2 separate regions of the Homo sapiens genome follow, and region 1 is linked to region 2. The links come from fine-mapping of genetic effects on gene expression. A gene starts in region 2. The other region holds a variant in brackets. All regions are shown on one strand. Distances are from middle to middle.

What was found. PIP is the estimated chance that this variant, and not a neighbour inherited with it, causes the effect.
Region 1: its variant is the best candidate, but not a certain one, in a credible set for the expression of ANO5 in blood mononuclear cells (TOPMed, PIP 0.50).

The regions. Positions count from the first base shown.
Region 1 is chr11:22,152,112-22,157,493 of GRCh38, forward strand. The region is part of intron 1 of LOC124902645 (a long non-coding RNA gene); the gene reads right to left. Among named protein-coding and RNA genes, the nearest start is that of ANO5, 38 kb to the right of the region's middle. The variant T/C (reference allele first, on the strand shown) is at 2,030.
Region 2 is chr11:22,190,210-22,195,591 of GRCh38, forward strand. ANO5 (anoctamin 5) reads left to right here and starts at 2,876. Exons shown (of 22, transcript NM_213599.3): 1 at 2,876-3,323. The coding sequence starts at 3,284. RefSeq lists enhancers at 2,034-2,123, 2,354-2,413, 2,444-2,513, 3,164-3,253, 3,504-3,693 and a silencer at 2,694-2,743.

The sequences.
Region 1 (5,382 bases), 38 kb before region 2:
GAGGCGGTGAATCAATATTATACAATTTTACATTTAATACATCACTGTACATATAGTGAGATCTTTATAATAAAATGCTGGTTGATATAAATCCATTTTATGTCAAAATAAATGAATATGGCATGACACATCACTCCCTCGCCTATCTGAACCAGCATTCAGACAGATCCAGAGAAGGGCATGATTTCTACTTTCTTTCTTTCTTTCTTTTTTTCTTTTTTATTTTTATTTTTATTTATTTTTTTTTTTTTTTGAGACGGAGTCTCTCTGTCTCCCAGGCTGGAGTGTAGTGGTGCGATCTAGGCTCACTGCAAGCTCCGCCTCCCGGGTTCCCGCCATTCCCCTGCCTCAGCCTCCCGAGTAGCTGGGACTACAGGCGCCCCCGCCACCACGCCCGGCTATTTTTTTTTTTTTTTTTTGTATTTTTAGTAGAAATGGGGTTTAACCGTGTTAGCCAGGATGGCCTCGATTTCCTGACCTCGTGATCCGCCCGCCTTGGCCTCCCAAAGCGCTGGGATTACAGGCGTGAGCCACCATGCCCGGCCGTGATTTCTACTTTCAACATTTAAGCCACATTCCATATCCTGATGGAAGTTCCAGAGAAGAGTTTGCATACAGTGTTTCCAGTTGTGTAAGTAGTTATTAGTATGAAAATATTTTATTAGACAAGTAAAAACCAAGGTTGGTGTGAAAGTCACAACTCAAACTGCTGACCAGACCACTGGCAGCTGGTTGCTGGTCCTCAAAATAGCTTTTTTTTTTTCCATGTATAAACTTTAAAAATCCATGCCTTTGGTTTTGAGTCACACAGTCTGTGGGTTCCCCCTGCTGGCTCTTTAAGTATTAGGACTCACAAGCTAAAAAACACGTAGGGATACCTATACACTGAAAACCAACTCCAGAGACAAAGCATCAGAATGATGCCTTGTATTGGAAGATTCCAGTTTGGAAGGGCAGAGAGATGTGGAGATAATACTAAGCTTATTTAACCTAAGAACCAGTGAGACTCAGCCCATTCTATTTGACATGTTTACCCACTTATTGTTTTTATGAATTGGTTACTAATGTGTAAAATTTGAATTTTTCGTTTCCTTTGAAAGGCTGCCAACAGAGAGTCAATATTGTTCCACAGCTGTGGTAAAGTAGTGTTTGCCCTTCTTAGATGGGGCATGCCCACTTGCCCACTAGAATTTGCCACAGTTACTAGTATTTGCTATGCCATGACTCACACTTACCGGGTGTGTCAGTTGTCCATTATCATCAGGCATGAGCTGTTTTTTTTTTTTTTTTTTTTTTTTTTTTTTTTTTTTTTTTTTTTTGTATACTTAGCCAATTTCACTCATTACAGTTTGGTGCCCAGATTCCACCAGACATTTGAGTTTTGAACTTCCGCTTTGAAACATAGGGCAGGTACCAATTTCTCCAAAACTCACTACTGATTCCTCCAAATCCTTATACCTCAACCCCTTGCAAACTAAGTGTTTTTGTTATTTTGACATATGTAATTTAGAACTTAGCTGCTCGTAATGAAGCTACTTTTACCGCTTGGAGCTGAAATATGATAAAAATACATATAGAGATTCCTCTTAATAATGAACTATCAAAAGAATACCCTTACAGTACTGTTTCACTTCTGAATCAATTTCTATAGCTGCAGCAAGGAAGAAGAGAGAGACTAGTATTTAAAAAAACTTTATCAGTCAAGTAGCAGAAGAAAAAATACACTGTGACTGAGAATGGGATGAAAGAAATATCTGAGGTCTTTTAAGAAAAGACCATATAATCTTATCTAGACCTGGCCACGACAAGCTGAAATTGAGGAAACCCAAAACTCCTTTTACACCGCATTTGGGTAAAAAGCAAAGCCTTGACCTGTTATTACCTGCCCCCAAGAAACCCAAACCTGCCATCAGGACTCACTGCTTCTTGATAATAGAGGTGCCAGGCACTGGTGGTTCACCAAAGCAGCTGTTAAGTTTATATATTTAGCATGAAATGAGTTTCTTTGGGGAGGGTGAAGATGGACTTT[T/C]TTTTTTTTTTAACACTGGAATGGTTAAATAATGATTTTCTGAGAACTTTCTGTTAAAAGGCCCTCCTATTCAAGTTCAGTTTCTTCCCTTCATCCACCTCTCATTCCAAATCTTCATTTTCCACATCTCAGTAGTTCTTACTCTATTAAGAGATAACAAAATGAAGCAGTATGAAGATTCTTGCCGGGGGTCAGGATTTCTGGATCCAAATCACATCTCTGCTGCTGACCATTTTCTGGACCAGTTTCTCCCATTAGCAAAATATGAGTTTAGAATACAGAAAAATGCATTGCTTTCCTTAATGACTACTACGTAATTAGGCATCCATGTACGTGTGCTTATCTAGTATAATCTTTTAAACTAAACACAAAAGCAAGTCAAAGGGTCCACAGTTAGTGTATGAGAATTATACATGACCCAAATATAAGCAAGTTGAATATGGGGGCCTTATTCACGTCTATTTTTTCTTATGGCAGAAATCTTTTCTAAGAATTTCTTGTTGTTTTATGATAAAATGTTCATAAAATGAAACCAAGCAGCTCAAACTGTATAATGAATTACTAACAACATTAAATACAATAACTAATATATCCAAGCCAGCTAGCCAGACACCTCTCAAAGAGAAATAAATGATTAGGTCCCAGCGGCTTGAAAGATCATGAATGGTAATCATGTCTAAAGCAAAAATTTGAAAAGTCCTCAGGGCCAAGTGGGCCATATCTGTCTCATGGGGTAAATAGTGGGCTTCAGATATTAGGCAATCGTTAATGTCTCTGCTCTTTCTAATATCCCCTTCCTCATCCTTCTTGCTAAAGTAGTATTTTCCAAAGGGAATTTCATGGGATATCACTTGGTATCCTAAAGAAAAACAAGAGAGAGGGGGTAAGAGGCTCTATAATTTTTTAGGATATGCTGAATCGAATAACAATATGGTAGAAACAACTAGTGGGTACCAGTCTTAATACCTGGCTGATTAAATAATCTGTACAACAAAATCCTGTGATATAAGTATACCTATGTAACAAACCTGCACTGATACCTAGGAGATTAAAAGTTAAAACAAAACAATATAGTGAAAACAGATTCTTCCCTGAGTCTTTAATATACCAACATGACAAGTGTTCTGGGAATTTGCATAAGGCGATAGCTACAGTAGTTCTCAATGAGGTTTGGTACCATCCTCCAAGGATCATAGTATTAGTCTGTTTTCACACTGCTAATAAAGACATACCCAAGGCTGGGTAATTTACTTTTTTATAAAACGTTTTAATTAACTCACAGTTCCACATGGCTGTGGAGGCCTCACAATCATGGTGGAAGGCGAAGGAGGAGTAAAGGCACATCTTACATAGCAGCAGGCAGGAGAGCCTGTGCAGGGGAACTGCCTTTTTTAAAACCATCAGATCTCATGAGACTTATTCACTATCATGAGAACAGCATGGGGAAGAACCCGCCCCCATGATTCAATTACCTCCCACCAGGTTCCTCCCACGACATGTGGGGATTGTGGGAGCTACAATTCAAGATGAGATTTGAGGGGGTAGGGGGGCAGAGCCAAATCATATAAATCACTTATAAATGTATTAAGTCAATTTTGATTATCATGATGATGAGAACCTTTACTTGCATTTAAAGTCCAGAGAACATGGATGCTAAATAACGTGCAATATTTGGGGATAATTGCAGAAAACAAAGAATTGTCTGGCTGTAAGTGCTAGTAGCCTCTTGTTGACATCAGCAAAGACTGCAGCATTTCCAAAAGGAATTTGAACAAAGAGCCTTCAGTTTGGAGTGAAACTTGTGAGACTACTATTTCCTGGAATCCATTTTGGGAAAGGTAGCTTAAGATACTTACTTAAAGACTTAGTTATAGCACTAGTCACCACCCACCACCACCTATGAATTTCTTTTTTTAACTGGGACTTGGTGAAGACCCAGATTATTTCAATCCCTTTAATCAAAGTGAAATGAAGGCAGTGGAAGGGAGAAGCGTAATTGTGGGCAGAAATCCTGCCTCAAATACACTTAGGCGGAAAACCGCTTTATCTCTTCAGAGCATTTGTGGCTACTTCTCTTCCCTGAAGCATTAAGAAGACTCCATAAGCAAAGCCCTTCCACATCATAGGACAAATTGCTGAAGTGAAAGAGAGCTACCCTCTACTTACTGGGACTGGTGTGAGGACCTTAACCAAGAAAAGAAGATACTGAATTGTAAATGTACCTAGGGGAATAAAATCTGAGTCTTACAAGTGCCTAAGAAATCAGCTTGTGGAACTTCCCAAACTTCCACATCAAGAAGTCTTTTCCTCTCCATTTTCACAGAAACTTCAAATTGTTACCCTTTTGATACTTTTTCCCCACCTTCACTGCTATTTCGATATAATTCATCATCTGATTTTATCATTAAATATTAAAAGGATTTTCAGAGAGTGTAAGGAGGTATAAACAACACATGTGATAAACATACTCTTCTCACCCCTTCCCCAAATAATAGCTATTAAGTTCTGCACCTAATACAAAGCTATTTAGCTGGCTGAACTTGGGAAAATCACTAATACTTTTGGGAATCTTGGTTTTCTTGTCTCTAAAATAGAGTTACTAAAAATGTTCACTTTACAGGGTTGCTGTACACATGAAATGAGATCATGTTGCAAAAGGCTTTTGTCCTGTTGCACAATTAAGTGATCAATTGATGGTAAAGCTGTTATTTTTATTATTAATAGACATGAAACCGGTCTTCTAAGTCTTCGTTCAGAGTTCTTTGGCTACCTGAAATTCTCAAGAAGACCGTGCTGCTTCCAGATGTAGCTGAGAAGGTGGCTTTTCTAAACTTCTCAGGCAGCACTGGTGCAAGCAGACGGCAGCTGCAGCCTACTAGCCTGGTTTCTTATTCACCTTCTCAGGTTCCTTCTTCCACTCCCTTCTCCATCAGTTAAGATTTCCCTCAAGAAGGCACAGTAGCAGCAGAGGCCACCAAGTTAACAACTTTTCTTCTCCAGTGTTCAGCTCTGTGGGATTTACTGTTCCACTTTTTTAATCTGAACTGATCCTCAGGGTAATTCATAAATAGCATTATATTTGTTAGTCTTTATTACCTGGCCCATTTGGCAGTTTGCAGGTAATATTGGCATAACATGACTCTATACAGGAGAGTGAGGGATCCACAGTCAGAATTGACTAGAGCTCTATATAGCAATGAGGCCACTCCTCTCACTTATATTTCACAAGTAGGAAACGTAAGGTCTAGAGGGGGCACTCATTTGCCCAGGCCTCACCATGGTAAGTAAACTGCAGAACTGGGTCTGGATCTGGTTCTCTTGGCTCTTTCAGAGTACAGAGAATACTATTTTGA
Region 2 (5,382 bases):
TATAAATTACTCAGAACGTAATTCTGGAAATGTATGGTTAAAGATTGTATCTAACGAGGCAGAGTATAGTGATGGAGGAGAAAATGGGCATATCCTAAAAGTATAAATGTATAAGCAATATAAAATATGTCAATGATATGAATATAGAGAATATTTCTCTCAAGATCTAAAGAGTTATGGTCACAACCCAGACCTTTATTAGAAGGACACAGCTGGTTTTCAACTCTTGCTAACAAAGTTTAAAGCATGTTGATAACAATCTAAGCAAATTCAGCCTGAAAATGTTTCATTTAGTATGGAGCAAAATCATCAACATATAATGTCTTCTCATACACATCATTTCAAATACAGAACAGAATAAAAAAACATGAAACAAGGAATTATATAAAATACTAGAAAAATAATTTTATTTTCTTTATTTTAACTTCATCTATATAAAGCAAAGATTCTCCCCAGCTCTTAACTCACAATGTCCACAGCATCTAGAAAAATACCTGATTTCAGGAAAAATATTAGAAAACATTCATATTGTAGAAATTTTCTTAGAAGCCCAAACAAGGATTAATAATCAAGAGATGATAACCAAACACTTCTATCACAATTAGTCATTATAATTTAATGTGTAAATCTATGCTTATGTATAGTCACCTTTCAAACACAATTCCAAATTACATCAAGTAGGGAATTGCCTACCTATAGTCTTAAATCACTTGACTAGAGCTCATGTATTCGTAGACATATAGGCAGGAAAGTAAGGTATAGGGGCAAAACTGATTTCCAGTTCCGTGGTTAATCATAACCTTTACCAAACCACTTCTCTCTAGGCCTGTTTCCTTATCTGCAAAAGGTGATTCTCAGTTCTGAAATATCAATAGAATGGTGGGTGGGGAGGGGAATGCAGTAGCAGAAAAATGAAGAAAGGTCAAGACTTCTTTGGTCACCTCATCCTAACTTTCAAATCACCCCATCCTTATCCTAAACTCAGAGTCACTGATATGGTTCGCTGCGTGGCATGCCCAGGGAATTGTAATAATTCTCACCCTGAATTGTAATAATCCCCACGTGTCAAGAGCAGGGCCAGGTGGAGATAATAATGGGGGTGGTTTCCCCCATGCTATTCTAGTGATAGTGAATAAGTTTCAGGAGATCTGATGGTTTTATAAATCGGAGTTCCCCTGCACAAGCTCTTGCCCTCCCCCCATGTAAGACGCACCTTTGCTTTTCCTTTGCCTTCTGCCATGATTGTGAGGCCTCCCCAGCCATGTGGAACTGGGAGTCCATTAAACCTCTTTCATTTATAAATTACCCAGTCTCAAGTATGTCTTTATTAGCAGCATAAGAACAGACTAATACAGTCACTCCCTCCTCATCACTCAAGGCTCTCAGCTGAGACCTCTACCTCACTGTTAGTTCATCATCAGTCTTATTTCCCCGCCATTAGACAGTGAATCTAGTCTCTCAATTATTGTGTAGTTGGCAGTTGATCGGGTCTCAAAAACACAGAACCAATGCAGAGGGGCCTGTGAGGAGTAGAACGACCCATTCTGCTTGAGGTTAAAGTTCTGGTTGGGGTGGGCAGGAAGTGGAGGGGGGAAACAAAGTAACCCTTTGAAATGGAGTAGGGATCAATGTAATATGAGTTAATTTTCTTTTCTTTTTTTTTTCTCTTCTTCCTTCCTCCCTCTTCTTTTTTTCTTTTCTTTACTTTCTTTTGAGACAGGGTCTTGCTCTCCATCACTTAGGCTGGAGTGCAGCGGGATGATTGTGGCTCTATGTAGTCTCAATCTTCTGGGCTCAAGCGATCTTCCCACCTCAGCCTCCCGAGTAGCTGGGACCACAGGTGCCTGCCACCATGACTGGCTATTTTCCAATTTTTTGTAGAGACAGGGGTATCCCTATGTTGCCCAGGCTAGTCTTGAACTCCTGAGCTTTCAAGCGATATCGTCCAGCTGAGATGATGACAGGCGTCATCCCAGCTGGACTATAATATGGGTTAATCTTAATAGCAGCTAAATGTTTAACACATTCTGTGGCAAGGACTGTGCACCGTGCTTCTCTCAACAGCCTAGGAGGTGGGTACTATTATCATTCTCCTTTAAATATGTGGAAACTGAAACTTAGAGAAACTTGCCCCACACTATCCAACTCTTAAGGGGCAGAGGCTGACTTGGAACTCAGGCCACAAGGGATGACCTTCCCCCACCTGTAGAGGGCAGAGATCCTGCTGGGAACCCAGGAAGCAGGCAGGGCCAGGAGAAAAGTCAATACTCCCGCTCCAGACGCTATGGGGAAGGGGCTGCTGGCACCTTGGAGTCTCGGGCCATGAGCCGGCCTTAAAAGGGAGGGGTTCCTTTAAGGGAGAGGGACTTTTCCCCACGAGACCAAAAGTAACTCCCAACTGGGAGAGGGGTTCTCTCCGAGTGGCACGCATGAGCGGATCGATGAAGACCCGGCCAACCGGCTGAGGGAGCATCGGGACCCCCTTTGGGGATCGGAGGAGGAGGATTCCGACAGGAGGGAAGCGGCAGCCCTGGGGAACCAGGATTCCTGGTCGTGGGTGGACCCAGTGGAAAAGGACGTGCGAAGCCTGTACAGAATGGAGCAGGCCGGCCAACAGGGCCGGGGGGCGGCGGGTCCCGAGGAGGGACGGGAGGCTGCATGTCCGGAGGAGGTGCGGGAGGCGGCAGAGCAGGGACCTGGGGACGGCTTGAGCGGAGAGGAGGGGGCCAGCGTGGAGCCAGCCGGGCCGGGGGGCGGGGAGATGGCGGTCTCCGAGGGTGGGGCGCCGGCCGGTCTTGCGGTCTGGAGGCGGGGAAAGAGGCGTGGAAACAGGGACGCAGCGAAGGGGAAAGGAAAGCTGCCAGAGGGCAGGAGTGGAAAGGATCCTGGCGAGCACCGGGAGGAGTGGCGGCTGCGGGATCAGCTGCCGAGCAGGCACAGGGACAGGTGCCTGGAGAAGTACTGGGAGAGCGCCCAGGAGCGCTACCGGCTGAGGGTGGGGAAGCGCAGGGCCAAGCGCGCGAAGCAGGTTGTGGGGGACCGGGTCGAGTGGAAGTACCCGCCGGAGAGGAAGGCCGGCTGGCTGTGGCGCCCAGAGACGGTGGAGTCCGAGGAGGAGGAGAAGGAGGCCTGCAGAAGGAAGAGCAGGCCCTTAGAAGTCCAGCAGCAGCAACTCCGGCGGCCCACAGTCAGATTCAGCACCTGCCTCAGATCTCCACGTCTGTCTCAGCTGCCCCTCTCCTGCTGCCTCTCAGGCACCAGTGCCATTAACGAGCTGGCGAAGATGGGCGACCCGGATCTCCTGGAAGTGTTGGCGGAGGAAGGTAGGACCGCGCCAAGAGGCGTCAAGGGAGAGCCAGGCTGGCTGCCTGCACCCCTCCACCCGCGGCGCAGAGGCCCCGGGGGACGTTGGCGGCCCTGCGGCCTGAGTCCTAGGGAGGTTCGCTGCGTGGCGTGCTCAGCGCGAAACCGGGACTGCGGGGCAGAGTCCCCCGCCTGGGGTGAGTGGGGTTGGTTTCGGCGCCCCACAGATTTCTCTGCTGCTCCTGCGCGCCAGGGACCTGCGACCTGTGACCCCTATGGTTCCGGAACACCCTCCTTGCTCCCCTGCAGGCCTGGGAACCGCCGAGTAATTCAGGGCTGCTAGGCTAGCGCTGCAGTGCTTGGGTCTCCGAACCCAGCCAATGGAAACGAAGGCTTTCCCAAAAAAAGCAGCAGTATAGAGTGCAAGACAGCTATCCCACGTGTAAGGAGCTGGTCCTTGAGTCTTATTACCTCACTCTCTCTGCCCGTTACTTATCATGCTTTGAGATGCTTGTTAATTGTAGGAGTAGCAGATCCTAAAATCTATCAGTTTGAGATACTGAGAGCCATAGGCACTTGGAAAAGCTGCTGCTGCTGCTGCTGCTGTTGCTTTTCAACAGCTTTCATTAAGCCCTTTAGTTCCGTTGAGAAATATTTATCCATTGTTTGCCAAAGCCTTTACACCACCTGTATTCCGTGGACCTATTTTAATACATGTATTTTCCTTAAAATGCACATACTATTTTGCTGCTATCTCCAGGACCCCAGTTCCTTCAATGATATTTTATTTTCATGTCTTGTTTAGTGTTGGATTTAAACACAGAAACAGTTTTCCAAAGTGACAAAAGATCTGATCATTACTATTCAGTCTTCAAAGGCACCGGGAAATACCGTGTGTTACTGCATCCTCCTCGTTCCCTTTTTTAAGCAGCTTTATTGAGATATAATCTATATACTGTAAAATTCACCTATTTGACGTGTAAAGTTGGATTTTTTTTAGTGTATTTACAGAGTTTTGTAACTATCATCATAATCTAATTTTAGAACACTTTCATCACCCCAAATAGAAACCTCTTAGGCAGTCACTTCCCATCCTCCCCACTTCCTACCAGTAATCTCTTTATTGTCTCTATAGATTTGCCTATTCAAGACCATTCGAATAAATAGAATCATACAACATGTGGTCTGTTGTAACTGGCTTCTTTCTCGTAGATTAACGTTTTTGAAGTTAATCCATACTGCAGCTTTTATCAGTGCATCATTCTTATTAATTGCCAAATACTATTCCGTTGTAGAGATATAGCATACCTATCCATTCATCGATGGTAGGATTTGTGTTATTTCCACTTTCTTTTGCTTCTATGAATAATGCTGCTATGAACATTGATGTATCAGTTTTCATATGAACATATGCTTTTATTTTCCTCGGGTATATATCTAGGAGTGGAATTGCTGGATTATGTGGTAGCTTTATATTGAACATTTTAAGAAACTGCCAAACTGTTTTCCAGGCATCTGCATGTTACCTTCCCATCAATAATGTATGAGGGTTCCAATTTCTGTACATACTCACTAACACTTGTTATTGTCTTTTTTATTATAGCCATCCTAGTGGTTGTAAAGTGGTATCTCAGTGTGATTTTGATTCTATTGTGATTTGATTCTACTGACTAATGTAGCAAGTATTTTCATATACTTATTAGTTATTCACGTTTTTGGAGAAGTGTCTATTCAGATCATTTGCCTGTTTACAAAAATTTAGTTGTATTTTTCATTATTGAGTTGCAAGAATTCTTTATATATTCTGAATACAAGTCCCTTATTAGATATATGATTTACAAATATTTCCTCCCATTCTGAGTGTTATCATTCTATGTTCTTAATGGTGTCAGTTGAAGCATACCCCCCTTATTTTTTTTTTTTTTTTATTTTTTGAGACAGGGTCTGGCTCTATTGCCCAGGCTGTAATGCAGGGGCATCATCTCTGCTTACTGAAACCTCTGACTCCCAGGCTCAAGCGATCCTGCCACCTCAGCCTCTGGAGTGTCTTGGACTATGGGTGCTGCACCACGACCTCCC